Homo sapiens: one gene and its partners. The protein of the gene in region 2 purifies or fractionates together with the protein of the main gene of each other region. This does not show direct contact. Each region holds a gene or a part of one and is shown on either strand. Other genes may lie near its edges. The genes, in order: HEPHL1, RAB11B, PLCD1, SH3BP5, PI4KB, LYG2 and SERPINB5.

The links.
Region 1: the proteins of RAB11B (region 2) and HEPHL1 purify together in Homo sapiens (affinity purification with mass spectrometry; 2 studies listed by BioGRID and IntAct, with this or other methods). This does not show direct contact.
Region 3: the proteins of RAB11B (region 2) and PLCD1 purify together in Homo sapiens (affinity purification with mass spectrometry; 2 studies listed by BioGRID and IntAct, with this or other methods). This does not show direct contact.
Region 4: the proteins of RAB11B (region 2) and SH3BP5 purify together in Homo sapiens (affinity purification with mass spectrometry; 4 studies listed by BioGRID and IntAct, with this or other methods). This does not show direct contact.
Region 5: the proteins of RAB11B (region 2) and PI4KB purify together in Homo sapiens (co-immunoprecipitation; 3 studies listed by BioGRID and IntAct, with this or other methods). This does not show direct contact.
Region 6: the proteins of RAB11B (region 2) and LYG2 purify together in Homo sapiens (affinity purification with mass spectrometry; 2 studies listed by BioGRID and IntAct, with this or other methods). This does not show direct contact.
Region 7: the proteins of RAB11B (region 2) and SERPINB5 purify together in Homo sapiens (affinity purification with mass spectrometry; 2 studies listed by BioGRID and IntAct, with this or other methods). This does not show direct contact.

The regions. Positions count from the first base shown.
Region 1 is NC_000011.10:94,069,854-94,073,353, reverse strand, and holds part of HEPHL1 (ferroxidase HEPHL1 precursor), read right to left. Parts: intron 2,981-3,500; coding exon 2,812-2,980; intron 330-2,811; coding exon 190-329; intron 47-189; coding exon 1-46. UniProt on the Homo sapiens protein: Is a copper-binding glycoprotein with ferroxidase activity. It oxidizes Fe(2+) to Fe(3+) without releasing radical oxygen species. May be involved in the regulation of intracellular iron content.
Region 2 is NC_000019.10:8,396,860-8,400,359, reverse strand, and holds part of RAB11B (ras-related protein Rab-11B), read right to left. Parts: intron 498-3,500; coding exon 302-497; intron 1-301. UniProt on the Homo sapiens protein: The small GTPases Rab are key regulators of intracellular membrane trafficking, from the formation of transport vesicles to their fusion with membranes.
Region 3 is NC_000003.12:38,006,996-38,009,819, forward strand, and holds the end of PLCD1 (1-phosphatidylinositol 4,5-bisphosphate phosphodiesterase delta-1), read right to left. Parts: intron 2,817-2,824; coding exon 2,658-2,816; intron 2,437-2,657; coding exon 2,277-2,436; intron 2,164-2,276; coding exon 2,047-2,163; intron 1,642-2,046; coding exon 1,463-1,641; intron 1,373-1,462; coding exon 1,240-1,372; intron 1,169-1,239; coding exon 1,019-1,168; intron 864-1,018; coding exon 778-863; 3' UTR 501-777; downstream 1-500. Other genes in the region: VILL (villin-like protein), read left to right, coding at 1-60. UniProt on the Homo sapiens protein: The production of the second messenger molecules diacylglycerol (DAG) and inositol 1,4,5-trisphosphate (IP3) is mediated by activated phosphatidylinositol-specific phospholipase C enzymes. Essential for trophoblast and placental development.
Region 4 is NC_000003.12:15,253,853-15,256,719, forward strand, and holds the end of SH3BP5 (SH3 domain-binding protein 5), read right to left. Parts: exon of another isoform or gene 2,452-2,867; coding exon 2,234-2,451; 3' UTR 501-2,233; downstream 1-500. UniProt on the Homo sapiens protein: Functions as a guanine nucleotide exchange factor (GEF) with specificity for RAB11A and RAB25. Inhibits the auto- and transphosphorylation activity of BTK. Plays a negative regulatory role in BTK-related cytoplasmic signaling in B-cells.
Region 5 is NC_000001.11:151,293,861-151,296,416, forward strand, and holds part of PI4KB (phosphatidylinositol 4-kinase beta), read right to left. Parts: intron 682-2,556; coding exon 549-681; intron 279-548; coding exon 158-278; intron 1-157. UniProt on the Homo sapiens protein: Phosphorylates phosphatidylinositol (PI) in the first committed step in the production of the second messenger inositol-1,4,5,-trisphosphate (PIP). May regulate Golgi disintegration/reorganization during mitosis, possibly via its phosphorylation.
Region 6 is NC_000002.12:99,241,746-99,245,666, forward strand, and holds the end of LYG2 (lysozyme g-like protein 2 precursor), read right to left. Parts: intron 3,714-3,921; coding exon 3,517-3,713; intron 2,393-3,516; coding exon 2,254-2,392; intron 738-2,253; coding exon 619-737; 3' UTR 501-618; downstream 1-500. UniProt on the Homo sapiens protein: May act as a potent antibacterial protein that may play a role in the innate immunity.
Region 7 is NC_000018.10:63,479,958-63,483,457, reverse strand, and holds part of SERPINB5 (serpin B5), read right to left. Parts: intron 1-3,500. UniProt on the Homo sapiens protein: Tumor suppressor. It blocks the growth, invasion, and metastatic properties of mammary tumors.

The DNA of each region.
Region 1 (3,500 bases), on a different chromosome or scaffold from region 2:
AAGGTCACTAACAGGGTATCACCCACCTCTGCCTTGATGACTGGGCCTGAAAAAATATCCAGAAGAAGAGAGAGAAGAGAATGAAAAGAGACAGAAAGAAGTAAAGCAGAAGAGTCATTCTGTGCAGATGTACATGCCCAGCTAAAACATCTCCCTGGGTTCAATGCATGGGGGATGGTTTTACTGTACCAAGAATTCCAAGATGGGCTTCTTCAGCAGAGAGTCTCTTTCTTTTAGTAAAAGTTGCATCAACAAATTCAGTATACCGAACCTTCCAGTATTTTCCTCCTATTCTGTTGTCCCCTTGTGTGAAGTAGAGATCAGAGTCACTGAAAAGACATAGGAATGTGATTGAGGACACTTCTCAACATATCCACCAAATACTTTAATTATAGAACTTCATTCTATCACTTTTAGTCCACTCGCCCACCCATGTCCCCAGAAAAGACAGCACAGGCCTTGACAGAGTTCCCAGGAATAGTTAACCAGCCCTAAAAGTCTTCAGAGGCTGGGTGATACTCAAGCTCATTTCTCTCAGCCATTGTACTTTCTTCCCAAGAGGTCCAGCACTGAACCAGTCACAAGTAAACTCCTTATTTACCAATAGTAGAGTTCCAGAATGGTGTTCTACAAAGTAACAAAGAGCTAACTGGTTTCTCTGCAGAATAAGCATCCCTCTCTCTCTTGCTGATATTAATATGAATATTCTCTGCATCTAGTAAGCTCTTTGATTTCTGGCATTATTAAGGAATGGAGTGTCTAGTTAATCAAATAGTGTAATTATTGGAGGGCTACCATATAAACCATATGCATGAAATGCAAAATTTCCAAGTCGTGAATATGATAATATAAATTCTGACTAATACTGTCTCTATACTATCTTATTTCCATCAATGGTGCCATCACTCTTGCAGCCACGTAGATTTTCTTTTTCTGCTTCATTCCCTTAACTCATTCATCCTTACTTTGTAAAATTTTTTGGCACTCTTCCTTTTCTATCCTCCTTGTGCATCTTTTCTTTTCCTTTCTTCCCACTACCACGACCCCAGTTCATGCCCTAATCACACTGGGTGGAGCCCATTATATGAACCTCTGAACTGCATCCTCTATCTGATACTGGCTCATTCACTTTTCTTCTCAGCATAGACACACAACTATTAGATTGGTGCAAAAGTAAGCCATAATGGTCATAATGGCCAAGACCGTGATTACAAATTACTTTCAATGGCCAAGACTGTGCTTATTTTTTCACTTAATACATTAATCTCCAAAATGGCAATTGTTATTGCTATTTACCTGCTCCAAAATCTTCAATTGCTTCCAATTGCCAATCAAATAATGTTCAAAAAGATTAAAGGACCTCTGCAATTGATATCCCGTTTACCCCAATTCTCTATTTCTCCATGCCAGTGCCCATTCTTCTATGCAAATTGTTACTGCAGTCTCATCTGTTCATTCCTCCCATGCCACAGGTGCTTTGCATCAACCCCTCCATCTAAAATTCCTCTCTTCCCTATTCAGTTAAATAAATTCTATCACTCCTTAAGATTTTGCTTAAGTCTCACTTCCTCTATAATGTGTTCCCTGGCCAGCTTAGCTCTCTCTGAGCATCCAGATAACTCACTACCAGGACAACTCACCTCACTTTTATTTGTAACTTGCAGTTACTTCTCTACTCTTGTGAACCCAGCTTCTTCCTCTGCATTTTATTGCTTTAGATATCCTTGCATCCCTCATGTCATCTTGCACTTTGTGCTTTCATATATCACATTAAACATTGATTGAATATAGTTTAATCTTTCCTATTTCAGAAGGCACTTCAGAATTCTAGAAGGCTCCTAAGACAATTTTGAATGCTAATTCTCATTATTCTGTTTATGGAGAAATACTAGTCAATAGAGAATGTTGATATCAGAGTCTTTCACATATGGTTCACACAAATTCTTTAGACAGGGTTCAAGTGCATCCGTTTGGTAGAATAATGAGTGAAAGTATGAATGAATGAATGAATGAATGAATAAAATGTACAATTAAAGAAACAAATGATGTTTTATTGATCACAAAGAGAATTTTTAAAACATTCCCTTAAATATAAAAAAGGATTCTTGATATCACACTGTACATTTTTTAGTATCTTCACAGACAACTTTGCATATGATTATATACTAACAAGTCACAGGAGTCCAGATCCACCTAATAAATTGCTAGATTAATTTTTTAAATAGTATATTCTATGGGAGCGCAGAGAGAACATAATTCATTTATATCAAGAGTCAAAGGTTTCACTTCAGAGGTGACATTAGAGTAAGGCTTTGAAAGAAAAATGGCATTTTACTGAATAGAAAGGAAAAGAATATTTGTAGGACATAAAGGGGACACAACTTAAATCAGGATATCCTTGAACCAAAAAGGGTAACCCTCTTAGGCCAGGTCATCTCCATCTCCTGTCATTCCCTCTTCAAGACTGTCTGCTCCATATGTGTAAAGGCCTTACTCTATTCTTTGTCAGCTTAGTATTTCTAATGGCACTTTGCACTATAGTTTGCACATAGTGCCTACTCAAGAAATGTTTGATCAATGAGTGAATGATCTAGTGTTTTGATTCAGCCGTCAAGTCACAAAACAAAAAATATTCTACCAGTTCTCAGCAGTGCTTTTGCAGTATTAAGAACACCTTAAGCAGCTACATTATGCCATCTATGCAGTATAAGCTCATCAGAGCAGTGGTTGGAATACAAATTAGATCACAGAGAAAGCCTAACACATGCTTCTCTGACGAGAGGCTTAGAAACACCAACAAAGGGTGCTTACCTGCCAGAGGCGTTTAGAGGAAGACCACTGAATTTGTTATAGCCTTGAGGAGCATAATCCCAAAGAATTTTTTCAGCTGCTATAAAGTAGCGCCTCTGTTGACCCTTCATCTTGGGGTAGAAAATATCACTTTTGCAGTTATCAACATTGTATTGCCCCAGCATACCAGCTGCAGAACAGAGGAAAACCACGAGCTGAGGCATAAATGATCACAAAAGGAATCATATAGGAAAAGACTGATAGATTTGGCTCTTGAACATTTAGGCTTCTGTACAGAAAATTGGACCATAAAGAAAGTTTTTTTAAAAAGGATAAATGGCAACAGGAGGGATATTTGTGACACATATGACAAAAGATTAATACGTAAATCACTTTTACAGATAAAGATGAAAACAAGTAAATCTCCAATAGAAAATGAGCAAGGAACAGAAATAGTTTATTCACAAAATAAATAATATTGGCCAATAAACAAATGAAAAAGAGGTTCAACCTTAACAGTACTCAAATAGTACTCAAACCTTAACAGTTTTCAAATGATACTATTGTTCATTGATCAGATTAGTAAAGATTAGAAAGACTAATAATTCTCAGTGTTGGTAGATGAATGGGGAAAGAGCCATACTCATACACTTCGTGTAGAAGAATAACAATTTCCAAAAGAGAATGTGGCAATGTATGTCCATAGCTTT
Region 2 (3,500 bases):
GCTGAGGGAGGAGGAAGGCTGGGATGCTGGCTGGGCAGGGGCAGCGGCAAGGCGGAGTGGCCTGAGCTAGGTCCTCACTGCACTTGGTACCCAGAGATACCCTGGTGTGGCGAAGGCTGGGCGCTGGTCAGCCTGAGGGTCCCACGGCGCATGGCTAAAGCGTTCTTCCAGCCTCACTCCCTGGTCTTGGGAGCACACTCTCCCCTTCTCCTGCCCAACTCCTACACATCCTTCCAAGCCCACGCGCTGCAAGCCCACGCCCCCGAATCTCAGCGTCCCTGCCCAGGCTGCCGACACGCACGCGGAGGTGATGGCGCGGTAGCGCTCCTGGCCAGCGGTGTCCCAGATCTGCGCCTTGATGGTCTTGCCGTCCACCTGGATGCTGCGGGTGGCGAACTCCACGCCGATGGTGCTCTTGCTCTCCAGGTTGAACTCGTTGCGGGTGAAGCGCGACAGCAGGTTGCTCTTGCCCACGCCTGAGTCCCCGATGAGCACCACTGGGCGGGAAGGCGAGGTTCTGTGAATCCCCACACTCCACCCACGACTGCCCCCACAACCTTCCCGCCGGTTCCCTGGGTGCTGCACCAACGCGGCTGCCAACGGTGTGGAGGAGTCGAGAGATGCCTGGAGCCCAGGGCCTGCAGGCACTGTGCTAAGTGGTGCAGAAGTGAAGGCAGGCTCCTGCCTTCCAGAAACAGCCACTGCGGATAGCACAACACCTGCCTGTGTCTGGTCCTCAGAGCAGGGCTGTCCCAGCTGGGGCAAGGGGACCCAGGCAGCCAGGCAGGCAGAGCAGCTTGAGATCCATCAACCCTGAGCCTCCACCTGCAGCCTGGTGGCTGGGCAGCCAGACACGGCTTGAGAAGGCTCCTGAGCGGGGTGACCTTGGGCAAGTCACTTCACCTCTGGACTACTTTTTCCAAATGTGTGAACAGGAAGGCAGTCACAGGAGGAGGAAGTAAGAGCAGGCATGGCCAGGCACGGTGGCTCCCGCCTGTAATCTCAATGCTTTGAGAGGATGAGCCAGGCGGATCACTTGAGGTCGGGAGTTCGAGACCAGCCTGGCCAACATGGTGAAATCCCGTCTCTATAAAAAATACAAAAAGTACCCGGGCGCGGTGGCTCACACCTGTAATCCCAGCACTTTGGGAGGCCGAGGCGGGTGGATCACGAGGTCAGGAGATCGAGACCATCCTGGCTAACGTGGTGAAACCCCATCTCCACTAAAAATACAATAAAATTAGCTGGGTGTGGTAGCGGGCGCCTGTAGCCCCAGCTACTTGGGAGGCTGAGGCAGGAGAATGGCGTGAATCCGGGAGGCGGAGCTTGCAGTGAGCCGAGATCACGCCACCGTACTCCAGCCTGGGTGACAGAGCGAGACTCCATCTCAAAAAAAAAAATAATAATAATAATAATTAGCTGGGCGTGGTGGCTACTGTAGCCCCAGCTACTCAGGAGGCTGAGGCAGGAGAATCGCTTGAGCCCAGGAGGTGGAGGCTGCAGTGAGCCGAGATCGAATCACTGCACTCCAGCCTAGGCAACAGAGATTCTGTCTCCCCCCACGAAAAGAGCAGGCATCGCACAGGAAGGGACACGAGTAGGCAGCTGTCACGGTTGTTGTGGTTTCTGGTCAGGGCATGGGAAGGGTCACTGCTCCAGGTATGTAAGTGACAGGACATGAGGAGCTACTCCCACCTCAACCCCCACCTCTCCTGGTGCAGCAAACCCACATCCAGCTTCGGCACAGATGGCTGAGTGGGAAACAGGAATGTGCCCTGAGGACGCAGCCCGGAGGAAAGAGCCTGCAGCCACCTCCCACCACCCCTGTCCCCAGGGTCAGGTCCCCTGCTGAGCTGCAGGGAGCTCCAGCCAAGGCTAAGTCCTCATTCAAGGGGCAGTCCGTGTGGCAGTCCACGTGTGTGCACAGCTCCTCACAAGGCTCCAACACAGGTATGCATTGTCCCAGGAGGGGGGTGCACAGCAGAGCAGCTTGCCAAGATGCAAACCCTGGCCCAGAAAGGAGTCAGCGCAGCGTGGACAGAACAGAGATGAGGGTTTGTGGGCAACAGCACCCAGGGACGGGGGCCTGAGCCCAGTCGACACGGGGTGTGCAGCAGGCCTGTCTCATGCTGGCCAAGGAGCATCAGGAACACTTTCCCTGAGCAGAGCAGGTGCCTGCTGGTCAGGCCAGGGGTGAGCTGCCTTGTAAACTGTTTCCTGTCCCAGCCATGGAAGCACTGTCCCTATGGGCCCAGCCGCCCCAGGCTCTGGGGTGGGGTCTGGGTGAGCTGTCCCCAGACCCAGAACATACCATGTGGGGAAGATCAGTGTGTGTGTGTGCACTTGAATACAGCCAACCAGACGCCCCAGCCAGAAGCCCCGTGGACCCCCAAGTGTGGGCCTTGGGCCCCGGCACCTGAGGGTGGGTTGGCTCAGTGGCTTGGTCATCCCTGGTCCCAGGGAGTTAGGGGGCATCCACTGAGGATGAGGCTTCCTTGTCTGGGAAGAGATGGGTATGGCTGTTCCTCCTGAGCTCGGGGAGGTGCTGGCAGCCAGGCTGAGCCCTGGCTGACCCAGAGGTCCGCTGGCCCCACTCGGGACCCCTGCTACATTGAGGGAGCAGGCCCTGGAGCCCACCAGGCAGCCCTCCTCTGCCCTTCCCCTGGCCACACTGTGGGGCTGTACCTACACGTTTGGAATTTTCCCTCTAGAAAACATTCTCTCCTGACCCAACTTCCTGCCTCGGGCACTGGAAGGTATCATCTACACTCACTCACTCCACCTCCTGTCCCCCAGTCCTAGAACTCAAACCAAGCACGCTTTCGCCCCCACAGTCAGTGTCAGCCTCAGCTACCCCCACTCCCCCGGGCCTGTGCAGCAGGCACCCAGCCAGCTCTCCCTCCTTCCCTGCCTGCAGGGGCTCCACACCCCGACTCCTCTCCTCACAGTCACTCCCACTCAGTCTCCCACTCTACCTTCGAACCTCAGGGAGCCTCAGGACAGGCATCTCTGTCCACACCCAGTCCCCAGGTGACCCCATCCAGGCTCATGGCTGTAAATACCAGCCATGGGCTGGTAACTCCTATATTACCTCTCTCCCTAGAAGCCCAGACTGGCGTGCCCATTGTCTCCTTCATGTCTCCTCAGGGGCCCCAGGCCCCTCATACCCAGAAGAGCAGAGCCAAGCTCCCGATCACTCCCTAAGCCTGCTCACCCACCGCTCACCTACCCTCCTTATCTTGGTTAACTTTGGCTTGGTCCTACCAGGCACTCATGCCAGAAACCTGGAGTCATTCTCGACTCCTTCCTTTCTCTCGCATCTCAGAATCAATCCTTCAGCACATCCGAAACAGATCCAAGAGAAGGGAGGACGAGGGGTGCACCCCACCATGTCTCCCTGGGCGATTCCATTCCAGACTCTCAGACCCTGGAAGGTATTGTCTGTGCGGTCCCTGTGTTCACGCTCATCACCAACCAAAACGCTGTCCTCCTGCAGCAGC
Region 3 (2,824 bases), on a different chromosome or scaffold from region 2:
TTCTACAGCATGGCCACGTGGAGGCAGCGGCAGGAGAAAAAGCAGCTGGGCTTCTTCTGAACCCAAGCCCTCTCGACTGCCCCTATCCCCTGGACCCCAACATACCTACAATGCTGGGGAGGCCCTGCTTCCACTCCCCTCAGAGGCTTTTGGTCATCCTCTGCGTGTCAGTAAAAGCAGGCAGCCCATACGAGCTGTGGTATGCGTGCTTTCAAGCCCGGGCCACTCAGCAGGTCCACCTCTCAGGGGAAGGGGCCTCCAGGGCTGGCGGGTGTGAGCTCTCAGTGCCACCCCACAGAGGGGTTTATTTCTCGTTGGTCTCTCCAGATACCCCTGCCCTACTCAACTATGTGCAAGGAAGGTGGAGAGTGAGGTGCTAGGGCTCCAGCACTCTAGGACATGGGGACACACACACACACACACACACACACACACACACACACACACACACACGCTTCACAGGGGATTTTTCTGGCATCCAGGTAAAGAGACCACAAGGCTTAATCTTATCGTGATTTTTATAAAAATCCTTGACCACTCGCTGGCCGGAGGGTGGAGAGGGCTGCAGTGTTATTCCTAACGGAATGAAGGACAGCTCCAGGGACTGGGCTAGCTCCTGGTCCCCAGGGAGGCAGCAGCAGACACTATGTTAGGGCTGAAGGCAATTTGGGGGCCTAGCTCTGAGCAAGAGGCTGGGAGCAGCCACACCAGCCCTGTCCCCACATGTGGACAGAGGGCCCAGCCCACTCAGGGGGGACCCCACTGGCTTCCTCCAGCCTAGTCCTGGAGGGAGATCTTCACAAAGAGGGTGGCTGATGGATGCTGGTCCCCGTTCTTAGACATGAGGTGGACATGGCGGTATCCTGGTGGGTGGACAGGCAGGAGGGAACACAGAGAGAGTTCTGGTCATTCGGCGGCGGAGGGGGGGTGGATGCGTCAAGGGACAGCCAGCCCCAGCCCAAGAGACGCCAGGCCCTGCTTCCCACCACCTTGGCCATCCCCTTCTCTTGACACTCACCTTGCTTGAGGCTGTTCAAGGGGATGGTACTCTGGCCAATGAAGTCATTCTTGGAGGAGGCATCATAATCTTCCACCAAGAAGCGGATGAGGGCAAGGTCAGGCACAACTACCTCAAACGCAAACTCCGTGTCCCACCATGGGTTGAAACCTAGGGGGACAGGCACCATATCAGCAGCATGGACACCAGCCCTAGTAGCCCAGCCCAGGCCCAGCACCTACCATTGTTGGTGATGACAGCAGTCTGGCGGCTGGCCACGTCCCGGCTCACGCCATGGATCTCCACTGTCACTTTGGGGTCCACAATTGAATTCTTATTCTTGTTGACTTTTGGCAGCTGCTGCCCCGAAATGACCTGAGGAAAGGCAGAGGACAATGGACAGTTCAGGAGTGGTAGCGGGGAAGGGAGGTCCGTGGGCACCTGTCCCTCCTAGGTCCAGCGTACCCTGATGTTGAGCCGCTTCCGTGCCCACCAGGGCCCCTGAGCCAGGGCGCGGGGGTTAAAGGTGCCGTTGGGGTCTCGCAGGAAGGCGGGCTTCAGCACGTACCCACAGGCCCCGTTGTCCTGGAAGCGGCCCTGGTACACGTCCATCTCTGGCCCAGGTGTCTGGAAATTCAGGGCCACTACAGGCAGGACAGAGCAGTCACAGGCTGTGGGCTGGCCCTGGGGCCCTAGAGCACAGCCTGCTCAGGGTACACTAAGGCCTAGGGTCACATGGTGAGTTAGCAGGGCCCAGCATCACTCCAATGCCTGCTGCCCTCCTGCCACCCTCAGTGACCCACCATGCTAACCACACCTTCCATTCCTGGTGTGAGAATTCAAAGGACTAGTGTGCTAATGAGGTTTCAGACACTGTGACATGCTGGTGGGCAGATATTTCCAGACTGATATTACCAGCTCCACAAGCCCCTGCATTTGACCCTGCTTGGGTCCTCAGAGCTCCACTGCATGGCCTTCGAGGCTCCAGGCCCCCGGCCTTGGGACTGAAACCCTCCTCCAGGCCTCCTCCAGCCCCAGCCAGCCCATACCGATCTGGCAGCCCCCATTCCACATCTCCACGGGGCTGTAGTTGGAGGAGTCTGTTCTCCATCCAGCCGGGTAGATTCTGCTCAGGTGCCCCACGTTGTGGCGGACAAAGCCGTTTCCTGAGGGGAGGTGTGGTTCGGTCAGCAGTGGAGGCCTCCTGGTGAGGCCCAAGCCCTGCCCTGCCAATTCTCTCTGTAACAGAGCAGGGGAGTGGTGGGGAGCCAGGCCTCACCTGATTCTTGGAGCAGTCGAAGGGCACGGTTCTCAGAGAAGGACGCCATCTCGTAGAAGGCCTGTCCAGGGGTGCCAGGACTGGAGAAGCCCCCAAAGTGGACACTCTTGCAGTAAATGACCATGTCAGAGAGCTCCTGTGCTAGCCTGAGCTTGTCCTCCTGGGGAACACGGGGAGGCCCGGGTTAGATTCAGTGGTTGGGGTAGGGTAGGCACTGAGAAAGCCAGAAACCCAGGCGCAGAGAGACAGAGGGAGACAGACAGAGAGAGCGGGGCAGAGGGTCTGAGTGGCAGCCACAGAGAACTGAGACAAGGCAGACCTCCCACGGGTGAGGGGATGGGGAAGGCCCGGGCTGCCCCACCCCACAGCTCCCCCTCAAACCTTGGGCTTGTGCTGCACACGGCTCCTCACTGCCTCATCCTCCATCTCAGCAGCCTCGTCTTCGTCTGACACCACAGTGGCCTCAGGGCCACCCTCCCCTCCAGGGGGCAGGAGCCCCCCGAGCTTCTTCCCCTTCAGCAGGATCTTCCCCTTCAGTTGCTAGGTGG
Region 4 (2,867 bases), on a different chromosome or scaffold from region 2:
GGCTATTTTCCAGATGGTGTTTCTTCTAGGAGGAAAAAGAATTGCCTCAATTGCAGGGAAGTTTTTGCTAATGGTAAGTCAAGCAAGTCTCAGTGTCTTTACTACAGGTAAAAGGGTGTAAGGAGATTTTATGAGAACTGAATGAACCCTGAAGGTCACTAGTCAAATTCAGGTATGCTGTTAAGTGTTCTTGCTTGAGACCCAAATTACAAGACTGGCCAATTTTTGTATTTTTGGTAAAGACTGGGTTTCACTATGTTGCCCAGGCTGGTCTCGAACTCCTGGGCTCAAGTGATCCACCAGCCTTGGCCTCCCAAAGTGCTGGGATTACAGGCATGAGCCCTTGGGCCCAGCCGGCTGTTTAATGTTCTTAAATAGCACAAGGGACTTCTATGAACTTTCCTAGATGAAATATTTATTAACTACTAGGTAAAACACTTGTTTGATACTGCAAAGGGTTATTTCTGAAACTTAAACCTCATGATTGGCCAACCAAGAACTTTTTCTCCACAGCATGCTTTAATAATGAAATGCGGATTAAGAGTCCAATATTATAAAACATTTCCACAAAAGAAAGAATCCATCTGATTCTCAACTCTGAATGCACATTTGAATTCCCTCGGGGAGCTTTTAAAAGTCTAATGCCCCAGTGTACCCCCCCCAGTTAATTAATTAAATAATTCTCTGGGGATGAGAACTGACTGACAGCAACACTTAAGCTTCGAGACTGCAGTGTGCAGCCGAGGCCCACTCCTCCAGCGTCACCACCTCGTCTTTATCTGCCACTGTGTCTCCTCATTGCCCACAGCTTTAGCAACAGCAAAAGTAGAATTCAAACCTTGGTAAACAAGGCTTAAATTATTACTGTTCATGACCTTAATTAATTGAAAATGATTACTGGTGACCACAGCACTCCATGCTCTTCCTTATGGAAAAAGGGTTGCCTAGAAGATTTAGGCAATACTGGGAGTTCTTATTTGAAGTCACAGAAAGGAGAAACTTTTCTCAAGCCGTTTTTATTACACTTAGTGTATTAAGACAAGTACAAAATAACCTTGTAATTAAGATACTGTATCAGTCAAAAAAGAAGTCACTATTGTATGAAGAGATTTACAAATGACTAAAATATACAGGCTGTGACAGAATTAACAGTTTGAAAGAGGGTTGCTTTTTTCTTTTAGAAATGCTAAATTTTCTTAACAAGACAAAAATACAGTGCTCTAAATATGCATTACCATGAAAACGTTAAAGAAAAGCAGTCTTAACACTTAACTACTATTAACAGCCTTTGCCAACACATGCCTGCCTACTCCCTTTCCTAACTTTAAAGAACTGTTTCCTCTAAGGAATACTAGTGCAGCATAACCCTTAAATAATTTCATTTATTTTTAAAGTTACAACCTACAGAGAAATTAACATCTTGTCAATCTAATAACAGTGGCAACCATTCTTCACATGCACTTCTCTTAGAATAAATCCCCTTGGCTGGCAGGATAAGGCTTATGCTGTAGAACCTTCTCCCCCACAGCCACAAATCCCCTTCTATAAGTCCCTCCTACCCTCATCCCCCCGCATCCCCACTGGCATTCACCTTTCCCACCCCAAAAAGTGCAGCTCATGGTAGCCTTCTAGAAAATGGTTTTAATGGGTATCCCAGCATACACGCTTTTTTAAAAGCCCCCTCTGAACACCAGAGGTGGTGAAAATGAATTGTGTTCTTGGATTTTTTTTTTTTTAAGCCTCCACTGGGTCAAAAATATGTGCTCTTAATACTTGAGTTTTTGCTTTGTGTGTGGGTTTTCTTTCTTTTTCATTTAGATATCGTGGGATAAAGTGGAGAGGACATCTCCATTTTCCCATACAAACTGAGGGTGAGAAGAGAAAGAGAAGCAAGCTGTTGCCCCCACTTTGGCCTGGCTTCCCAGCCATCTTCCCAGCTCTGGTTCTTTCATAGGAACTAGTTATTGCTTCCACAATGCCGTTATACGGAATGTTCCACAAAGGCTGTGAACCTAGTCACAGTCTACCCACAACAAGAACTCTGCTCTGAAAAACCAGCCCAAGAGCTCTTACCCAGAAGAACAATCTTTAGCCCTCAAGGTCACTGAAACTTCATTAGAGCAGTTTAGAGTAGACGTGTAAGATTTGGCATATATTAAATGATTATTGGCACAATGTTCTCCAGTTCCATGTATAAATGTTGATATGCACATCGGCCAGGGCCCAGGATGAATCAGCCAATCTGCACCATTTTTATGTCAGCAATAATTCCATCTCTTCCCTTTGAGCACTGTAGGGAGAGCTGCTTCATCCGGTTCTCCAAGGCCTGGCCCTCAGGGGAGGTGCTGCTTTGGCTCTTACTGCTGCCACCACTGCCACTGCTACTGCTGAGGCCCCGGTTGTTGTTGGCTTTGTCACTTGTTTTATTCTCTGCCCCTTCTGCCCTGTCTCCTATAGAAATACAAGGATTATCAAAAGTGAGTATTGACAATTCTGCCCTGTCTCCTATAGAAATACAAAGATTATCAAAAGTGAGTATTGACAATTCTAAGTCACTTGAGCTCAAACCAGTCAGCTAACTCAGCCCTGTAGAAGTCCCACTGTTACCTACCGTGCCTATCAGAGAGGTTCTCAGTACATAATCATTTACTGCTTTTATTCCTTGTGATGTTTTATATATTCCTTAGCTATAGAGATGAAATTTGCCATATTCACTTTATTGCTGAGAAACAAACCTCTCTACTATGTGCTTGCCAAGGAGACTGTTCTGATGTGAGACATAGGACCTAAGCTCTACTTTATAGAAGCTGAGTGGAGCCAGGAGCCCCCCCAGAACAGCACTTGGAAACAACCTCAGTGATCAATAC
Region 5 (2,556 bases), on a different chromosome or scaffold from region 2:
CTAAAGGAGAAACAAGGCACTGGACCAGAGCTAGAAACTCTCTGGGAACCCCCCTCCCTCAACCGAGTCTCGTGGGATCAGCTTTCTTATGCTCCAGGGCTCCGACTTAAAGGGGAAGCCTGAGGCACTATAGCACCTGACCTCACCCCAGCCCCACCTTGCTGCATGATCTCCACGATCTGCACCACCTTGTCCATGTGTTTCCGAGCGGCAATCAGCCCTTGCAGCATCAGCATCTTATAGTAGTTGAACATGTCGCCATCCAGGCCGCCCATCACCTGGAAAGGGAAGAGAGCGTTGTGTGCACAAGGGGTCTTACACCGGGGATGGTCCCTGTCCTGACTGGCCTACCAGAACTCCTCCTCCTCTTGGGGCCCTGTTATTTCCCCCTTCCTTATTGGGCAGGAAGCTCCCAGGAACTCCTGCCTCACCCCTAATTACTGCCTGTTCTGTTCATCCCTAATTTGCAGGGAGCCCATCAGCTCCCTCTCCCATGACAGAGAAAGAATACAATGACCCCCGAGAGGCACCTCTCCTTCTTGACTCACATCCACAAACTCTGTGGTCAGCTTAAAGGCTGACGTCTCAAAGCCCAGATTTCGGGGTGAGCTGGAGAGGATGAAGCCAAAGTCGATGTGGATGATGTGGCCTTCTGCGTCCAAAAGGATATTCCCATTGTGTCTGAGGAGGGGGAATAGAGGAGAGGAAGAGGCAGTAGTCAGTCTGACTGAGGCTGGAACCTTAAGCAGCAATACACTGGCCACATGACACCAGGGAGGGGGGTCCCCTGCCATGTTTCCTGCTGCCCGTAACTCCAATCTCCTGTCCAGTTTCCTAGGACCTAAAGCTATCAGTGGAAAGAAAGGAAATCAGAAAACTGCTAACAAAGGCTATGGGGTCTGAAATTGCTATTAATAATTTAATAAAAATAGTTTAAGATTCTCCCAATTTCCCAGAAATTGCACTTCTGGCACCCAAACTATCCCAATCTAGTAGAGAATCCAGAAGCAAGGAAAGAGGGCCTCTGAGGCTCCAGCCAGCTGTCACAGAGGCCAAGCGCTCTACTCAGGGGAGGCTCTATTCTGAGCCTGTTTACCTGTGGGTTATTTGTAACTCCTGTCAGCCCACTGCAGATCAGAGGCCTCACTGGAAGGGAACAACAACAGAAGCAAGCAGGCTGAGTGGAGCTGAAATGTAAAATAGCGTGGGGGCTTCAAGGGGTAAGTTTTAAATCACTTACTTAAAAAGTCTCAGGATGAGGCAGTACTACAGGGCAGCTGTAGAAGAGTTAAAGGGAGATAAATCCCAGGTCTTTGTGATTCCCACATGAATGGCCAGTAGCAGAAGGAACAATTAACATGCTAAGCATGTGAGGCCTGGCCTATTCAGCATAACTGGCCTACTCAGTGTCAATAGAGGCTTTGTTAGGCTAAGAGCTGATGGTCTGAGGGCCACCTTCTCTGGGGTTGGTTTGGCCAAAAGAGGAGGGACAAAAGGAGAACCTAGTCCAACCTGAGTTCTTCCCCACTCAGGGAAAACACTAAAGATTTAGCAATCCAGGCACAATCTTGTGAGCCAGAATGGTTCTAGGAGTTGTCATGGTTCAACCTCACATTTTACAGGTGAAGAAAACAGAGGCCCTGAGAGAGGAAGTGATTTACTTGCCCAAGGTGCCATAGCCTCTCTTTTCACTACCAGAGTTAGCTCCAGCTGGAAAGCTGCTTAGGACTACTTTTGAAGCAGTTAAAGAGATCCTAAAACCTGACTCCAGTATGGGGCCTCATTCATTGTTGCCACTTCTTTCCATTGGTTGATTCCATTCATGGCTCGACTATATCTATTCTTTTTTGAGGTACTATGAACGGCTTATCAGCTACCTGCCCTCCTCTATCCCTTCTTTTTTAGAGGATGGACTCTCATCTTCCAAACATACTAATTCCCTAAAGGAAAGCCCTGGGGCCTGACTAGTGCCAGCTTCCCTGCCACCCATTTACTCAATCCCAGGACTGAGCTCTAGGCTCCCTGGGCCCTGAGTTCAAAATCCTGACACTTTGAGATAGTCTGAAGCTTGCAATCAAATTCCTTATAAATAATTGCATTCTCGGCCGGATGCAGTGGCTCACGCCTGTAATCCCAGCACTTTGGGAGGCTGAGGCAGGAGGATCACCTGAGGTCAGGAGTTTGAGACCAGCCTGGCCAAGATGGTGAAACCCCGTCTCTACTAAAAATACAAAAATTAGCTGGGCGTGGTGGCGCATGCCTGTAATCCCAGCTAATCAGGAGGCTGAGGTGGGAGAATCACTTGAACTCTGGGAGGCAGAGGTTACAGTGAGCCGAGATCACGCCACTGCACTCCAGCCTGGACAACAGAGCAAGACTCTGTCTCACACACACACACAAAAATATTACATTCTCCTACAGCTCTCAAATGCAGAGCCTGGGTCCATTTGTAGGGCTGGCAGGGTGGAATGAGCGCAGGGTGGAATGAGCACAGGGTCTAAAAGCTACCTGACTGTTATTTCCCTCATGAGGAAACACGTGTCTGACAGGGTTTTC
Region 6 (3,921 bases), on a different chromosome or scaffold from region 2:
ATAAGAAAAGCCAGTCCCTGGATCTTCACAGACAAAAGAAAACACAGGAGGTTGCTGTGGGTTTGAAGGACTTGGTGTATCTAACTTGAATGACAGCTTCACCTCAGTTGGCTCTCAGTTTCCCATGAAGCTAGAATTCCATCCCTATTTCTTCCATTGTCCCATGGATTGGCTGGCTTACGAGTCAGGAACTTCTCATAAGCAAAGCCTGAGGGCTCTGGGCAGATACTGGAAAAAAGACAAAGGCTCGGGTAAGGCTTACTTAACTTGTTAGCAATTCTGGTAGACAGGGAGTAGGTGGGCATTGGAATCACAGGCTAAAATGAAGCCTGGCTGGAATACCTAGGGACCATTTGCCATGATATTCACATTTACTGCAAAGTAATTATATATATGTCTATGTCCGTTTCCTAGGAACCATATTGTGAACTGGATGGATTTCTTTTATTTTTCTTTCCTTTTTTCAATGCTTATTTTCATTCAGAAAATTGGGAAATGAATTTTCTTTCATGATTTTAATCATTTCTTTGCCAGTGTTGTATACAACACATTCACGTAAAACTCTCAAAGGCGGCCATCTGAGCACTCTGCCAACCTGGCCCACCCACAGAGCTTTGCCTAGAAGCTTTGTCTTTTATAGAACTTAGCTCGAGCAATGATATCATTGACGAAGTCATTGTCTATGTCCGATGGGGTGGCAATCGCTTCAATTCCTGACTTAAAAGCTGAGAGACCACCTGAAATGAAACACAGAGAATTAGGCTCAAATATTAACTTTCAACAGAAATAAGCAATGAGCATTGCCAAGATGTTAGCTTTCCAGGCAAATCTTCCAAAGCAGGCAGTCCCAAATCCTCCTCCCTCTCCCTCCCTTTCTGAAAGGACGTGCTATCCCAAGAATCACTGGGAAAATTCCAGATTGCTTTCTTTCTCTTTTTCCAAAGTCTTTGGTTTTTCTTGTTGCAAAAATCAGATTTGCTTTTTTATGTAATCCAGGCCTGGCAGAACTAGACTCCCAGTACATCCTCTGCTGAAAATGCTTGTAACATTCTCTCATTTATTCAATAATTCACTCATCTATTCACTCACTCATTTATTCATTCAGGAAATGTTTTCAAGCACCTACTATGTGCCAGGAGAGGTGCCACACTGACTGCAAGGTACCCAAGACACACTTATTTCTTTGGGTATGTGTACATATGCATGTGTGTGCTATTTTACCCTAGAATTTTATCTCTAGTAGTTATGTATGTGTTTAACATAATTGTGCTCTGCTCTGATATCCAGAGAGGAAGATGCCTGGTCCTGATCCCTGCCTTCAAGGACCTTGAAGTAGAGACTAGAAACTGTTCTGATTAAGGCCGTTAGAGTGTGGAGGACATAACATTGGCCAATAGGAGGCAAACCTAATAGGAATTGATGTGGTTGGGTGTGAAGAGAGAAGGAACCAGAGAGCCTAAGAAAGCAATCTGGTTTTCAGGCTGGGATGACTGGCTATATTATGGTGCCTCCAAGACATGTAAAATGCAGAAGAAAGAGCAAATTTATAGTGGGAAGTTAGTGAGTTAATTCCATCTGGGAGATGCTGAACTTGAGGGGGCCTGTGGTCAGCCAAGCAGAGATTTCCACTTGGATATATAGCACCTGAAGTCCCGAAAATACTCACAGAGTAACATTGTTCAGACAATTTGGAAAGTTGTTGACAGTTTCTTATAACAGGAAAAAACCTATGAGAGGTAGGCAAACAGATAGATAGATAGATAGATAGATAGATAGATAGATAGATAGATAGATAAATTTTTTTTTGAGAGATGGGGTCTCACTCTGTCTCCCAGGCTGGAGTGCAGTGATGTAATCAATGCTCACTGCAGCCTTAACCTCCCAGGCACAAGCAATCCTCCTGGCTTAGCCTCCTGAGTAGCTGGGACTGTGTGTCACCATGCCCAGCTTTTTTTTTTTTTTTTTTTTTTTTTGTAGAGACAGGGTCTCACTATGTTTCAAGGTATCACTCAATAGCTCAGTAAGCAATGAATAAGAACCCCAACATTCTGCAGAAGAGGAAATGGAGGTTGAGGATGGAGGACCTCTCAAAGTAACTCAGTGGTTCAGGGAATGCAAATGCAGCCTCTAGACAGCTCCTCCCAGGGCCACTGCTGACCCCGTGGAAATGCTCCCAGGGAGTCTCGGGTCACACTGGCCTTCAGTGGTCTCATTCATTGCTCATTTAAACAAAGTACTCAGAATACAGCCTACCTTTGAGGTGCTGAGCAACACTCCACGTGGGGAATTTTTTCTGGATTGCCTTAATTCTCTCTGTTAGAATCCCAGTAGCCTGTGAAAGGTGCTCTTTGCTATCCCAGGCACCGACAGGGTGGTACGTTTGTTTATCAAGCTAGAAAATTCAGATAATAAAGTCAGCATCTGGATGAGGTAACACATTTTTTCTGCCATTCCTAATTTCCTCTCCTGGTATTCAAGTCATAGATACCGGCCTTTATCCCCAAAGAGTCAATTCTATTGTTCTTTCTTTCATATAGATGAGAGTCAGAGAAACAAAGTAAGGTTTGGGAGAAATGGACATGGTATAGTTTTAGCTAAACATTCTAATATACAAAAAAAAAATTTAAGTTGTTTTGAAACAAATAACACCCAAAGTCTACACATTTATAGTAATAAATAATTATCCAGCTAATTCAGATAAAAATTTGTTTCTAACTGGGAAGGCCAGAAGTCTGTATTTCTACAGACAATTTAAAATCGAGCCTGGAAGCAAATATCCAGATAATTTGGATCCCCTTCCTCCAGTTTACCCAAAGGAACAAGTTGTTTCAAGTAGGGCACAGTTATACCATGTTTTGATCCACATGGATGAAATTTACTACTTCATGAACCCCAAGAGGACACCTGTAACAATAATGCTATTTATAAGATTTTCTCAGTTTTAGTGTATTACATATTATTTATTGCAGAATGGTAGTTATGAAACTCCTAAAATACTTTTTAAAATATATCTAATAATGAATAAGCCTTGAATAAAATAAAAAGATGTGTTACAGAAATCCCAGATCAAATTATGCTGGAGTGGCCGGGCACAGTGGCTCAAGCTTGTAATCCCAGCACTTTGGGAGACTGAGGTGGGTGGATCACCTGAGGTCAGGAGTTCAAGACCAGCCTGGCCAACAAGGTGAAATCCCGTCTCTACTAAAAATACAAAAAATTAGCTGGGCATGGTGGCGTGTGCCTGTAATCCCAGCTACTCAGGAGGCTGAGGGAGGAGAATCACTTGAACCCGGGAGTGGAGGTTGCAGTGAGCCGAGATCACGCCATTGCACTCCAGCCTGGGTAACAAGAATGAAACTCCATCTCAAAAAAAAAAAAAAAATTATGCTGGAGTACCTGTAGCCAGATGCCAGGGTATTTTGGGGCTTGGAAGCACTGCAAATGGATTTCTAGTTCAGGTTGAGCTTCTGTGAGGAGGGATGCAGTGGGGCTGATAGAAAGTTTCTAGCTAAATACCTGCATCAAGCCAAATTTAAGTCCCCTGTGGTCCCAGCCGTCTTGCAGGACAGATCCGCCATGGCTTTCCCTGGAGATGATGGCTGCGATGACAGCAGGGTCCACGCAATGTCTCTGCCCGACTTCTTTGATCAGAGTCTGGTAAGGTTTTATGGCCCTCAAATCCATCTCAGCAAACATTTCAGAACCACGGATCCCTACGTCAATAGAAAAGAAACTGTTTTTCCGGGCATGGTAGTGTGTGCCTGAAGTCAGTTCCTGCTACACAGGAGGCTGAAACAGGAGGATTGCTTGAACCCAGGAGGAGTTCGAAACCAGCCTGGGCATCATAGTGAGAGCCCATCTCTAATTAAAAAAAAAAAAAAAAAGAATTTAAAGTTAAAAAAAGAAAAGAAACTGTTTCTT
Region 7 (3,500 bases), on a different chromosome or scaffold from region 2:
CTTAAAGTAACTAATGCCTTTGCAGGACACCCAGCACATAACAATACTTAATAAACAGCAGCGGTTATTGTTTGCGTTTATAATACGCATCTGTGTGTAAGACACTACCCAGAGTGTTACAAGGATCAGTGGACCTCCTCCTTCTCTAAGCTCATAGTCTCTTTGGGCAGATATGCAGACAAATAACTAGAATACAGAGCTGCCCAAGACATGTGAGTGGTATAATAAGTAATATGGGAGTTAAAGAAAAGAGGGAACAGTTTCAAAATATGTAGCCTGGTAAAGTGGATATAGCAGCAACTAGGCATCTTGTCACATCTCAGAGCTCTTTAATTTTAACACAGCAACTTCCAAAGTGTTGTGTCTTGACTCCTGGCAGTCCCTAACACCCTTTCAGGAGGTCCATGAGGTTAAAACTATTCTCATGATAATACTAAGACATTATCATTCTCAATCTCTAATAGACAGCGGAGTTTTCCAGAGGCTATATGACATCCCTTCTATTAAGCCAAATATTAAGGAGATTTGCAAAAATGAAAAACAATATCACTCTTCTCATTACATTTTTTCACTTTAGAAAATGTTTTTTAATATATATATTATTCATATTAGTATTTAATTATTATATTATTTTAATAAATTAGTAAATGAACATTTCAAAATGTGTCTGGTTTTCATTTCTAGTTTGGTAAATAGTGATAGATATAATCTACATTTTTTTTAAAGAAACAGTTCTTTGGGGTCCTCGGTAATTTTTAAGAGTGTAACAGGGTCCTCAGATTTAAAAAGCTTCACTGTTCTAATAAAGGTCTACCTACCTATTTAGTCTGGTAGTTACTGATCGACTCCAAAGACAATTAGGTAAATTCAGGCAGTCAGGGCTTCCCTTTCTGGGAGCAGAGCTGAACTACATGAACTCCTGAGGTTCTGCCTAAGCCAGGACAGCATGTTTCTAAGGGAAATGAATTGATATTACTACCCCGGGGTGAGCAGTACAGGGATTAAACTCGAAGTGTTCCCCCAAAGCCTCAGGCGCACACACACAGACACAAGGGCCGAATGTGACATTGAAGGTCTTCAGGTAGGACATGCACCCTGGCATTAGAAAGTAAGCTCCACTGCTTAAGATAGAGGACTCCCTTTGGCCAGTACCCAAACGTGTGTCAAGAGTCAAAGGCATGATGAATAGGATTGCAATTTGCACCTTATACCTGGACACAAATTCAGAATGCAAAGACGAGAATAAGATGGAGGAGAGGACTCCTGGTCTTTAAACATTTCTTCAGAATTCTCCCTTTTATGGGATATATGGCTTGTGTGTAGGATGGACTTAAATCGATTATATCTCAGAGTCTGAAAAAGCGAGTTCATTATCCAAAAATAATGTTTTATTGACTCTGTTCATGCTCACTGGTCATTTCCATGGGCTTCCTCCTTCTCCATATGTCCCTGATAAGTACAGCCATGCGCTCAGGCCAGTTCCCATTGCAAATATACCACGAGGCCCCCTGAAGTCAGGTGGGCCTCTCACTTTTCTTTAAAGCCCACAACCTTACTCCTTCTCCCCTCAGGGCAGGGGCAAGGGCCTACAGGTGACATCACACCCCAGGGAAAGGTGACTGGCATTAGGTGTATACTGAGGTCAGCAGGGTATACTGAGGCAAAAATGAAAGCCTGTTGAGTGTTTCACCCAGTGTGCCTGCCACTGGGAAAACATAAAGAAACTCTTCACAAAAGGTTTGGGGAATCTGTGGACAGACTTTCAGAATAGGAAACCTGGCTTCCTTCCACAGCACATTTAATATTAGTAATGCCAAGTTCATCTACAAGTAAAACTCAACATGTACAAGAAGTAATGAGTTATTTCTTCACCAAATAGAGAAGCCTAAACCCAGATCCCTGAAAGCTTCTTAACACTTCCACCAGTGGAGAGCTAATCGCACTGATAATAATATGAAAACACACAAACTGCTTTAACAAACACAAGTAGCTCCTCCAAGCACGTATTTATTATCCTCCAAGAGAAACTAGAATAATTTTGCATAGTCAATAACAAACTATACTTTTAGTGATTTCCTTTGTATAGAAAGATGGTGTTTAAGATCTTAATGTGCTGAGGGAGTTTGGCTGCAAACACCTACAAATGGATCTTAGGAGTGGATCAAATGGTGAGGAGATGTTCATTTTACCATTTTATTTCACTAAAGCATTATTCATTCACTTGTCACAACATTTTGAGATACATTTAGTCTAAATGATTGTGGATACAAGATCATTGTGGCTTTTAGTGTAGTTAATTACACAATACAATTAATGCTGTGTTGCAATTCAAGGCTTAGATCCAGGTCCCTGTTGGAGATGTAAATCAGTGCACATCTGACATCCTAACATCTCTGGGGCTTTCTCTCACCATTGGCGGACCTTCCCTTTGAGTGAGTCCCTTCCTTTGCATGCTAATCCTCAGTGCATGAACGCAAAGAGATCTGCCTTCCTGTTCCTATGCTGACTGGCTCCTTTCTCAGAAAATTCTCCTTCATGTCTGGGAAGGTCATACAGCCCTTAGTATCTGGGGTCCCAGTGGCAAGAGCATTGTTTGATGCTGGCTAAAGGAAACAGAAAAGGTCTGTACATGGAAAAGGTTGTAGTTGCAAAAAATCACCCACTAAGTAATCAATCAAATACTGCCCGGTAAATCTGATCAGTGGCTCTGTGATTAGTCCCAAGTGACCTAAAAACACTATAAAGTTGATCTGGTCTGAGGTAGCTCAAAAGATGACTTTGGCCACAGTTGCCACATGACTGTGTTGCAAGACAATCAAAGCATTTAAACAAACCTCAGCAATGTTAACAATACATGACCTGGAAAAAATACAAACTTCCTACACAGACCATTTTGCATGATCAAATGCTATAAAATTGCAAGTACCAGAGTAGAGATTAGCAATTCCTATATAATAAATTTAATGTGCCTAATGACTTCTGTTGAAAGTGCTAAAATTGCTACAAATTTTTTTTCATTCTGTTGCCTTGTCACAAGGGTCTTCTTCCATTTCTGTGAAAACCCTGTAACCATTTTAACAAGGAGAACTTCGTTTATAGTTGCAATGTAGAAAACGCTACATCTTTCAGCACTTAAAAGTTTAAAAGGAACTTTATTTTAACCATAGGAAAGTGAGATAGATGGAAGTTCAAGCAGTAATACAAATGCAGTTTTAAGAACTTATTTCCAAGTACCTTGCTTTCGCAATCTGTGCAAATTATAAACCTTGAAAGTGGGACAAGATCTTGGAGAGGATCTAGGCTGGCCACACCTCTTCATTTTACAGATGAGGAAAATGAGGCAGACAAAGATGAAGTGAGTCTCCCAGGCCACCCACGCAGGGAGTGAGAGTGGCAAAACCAGACCTAGAATTCATTGCTTCTAGCTCCCAGCCTGGCACTTCCCCGCCACACCTGATCACCTGCTTTCTTGTTAATTGCATCTTTGCTGGCATTTGTTC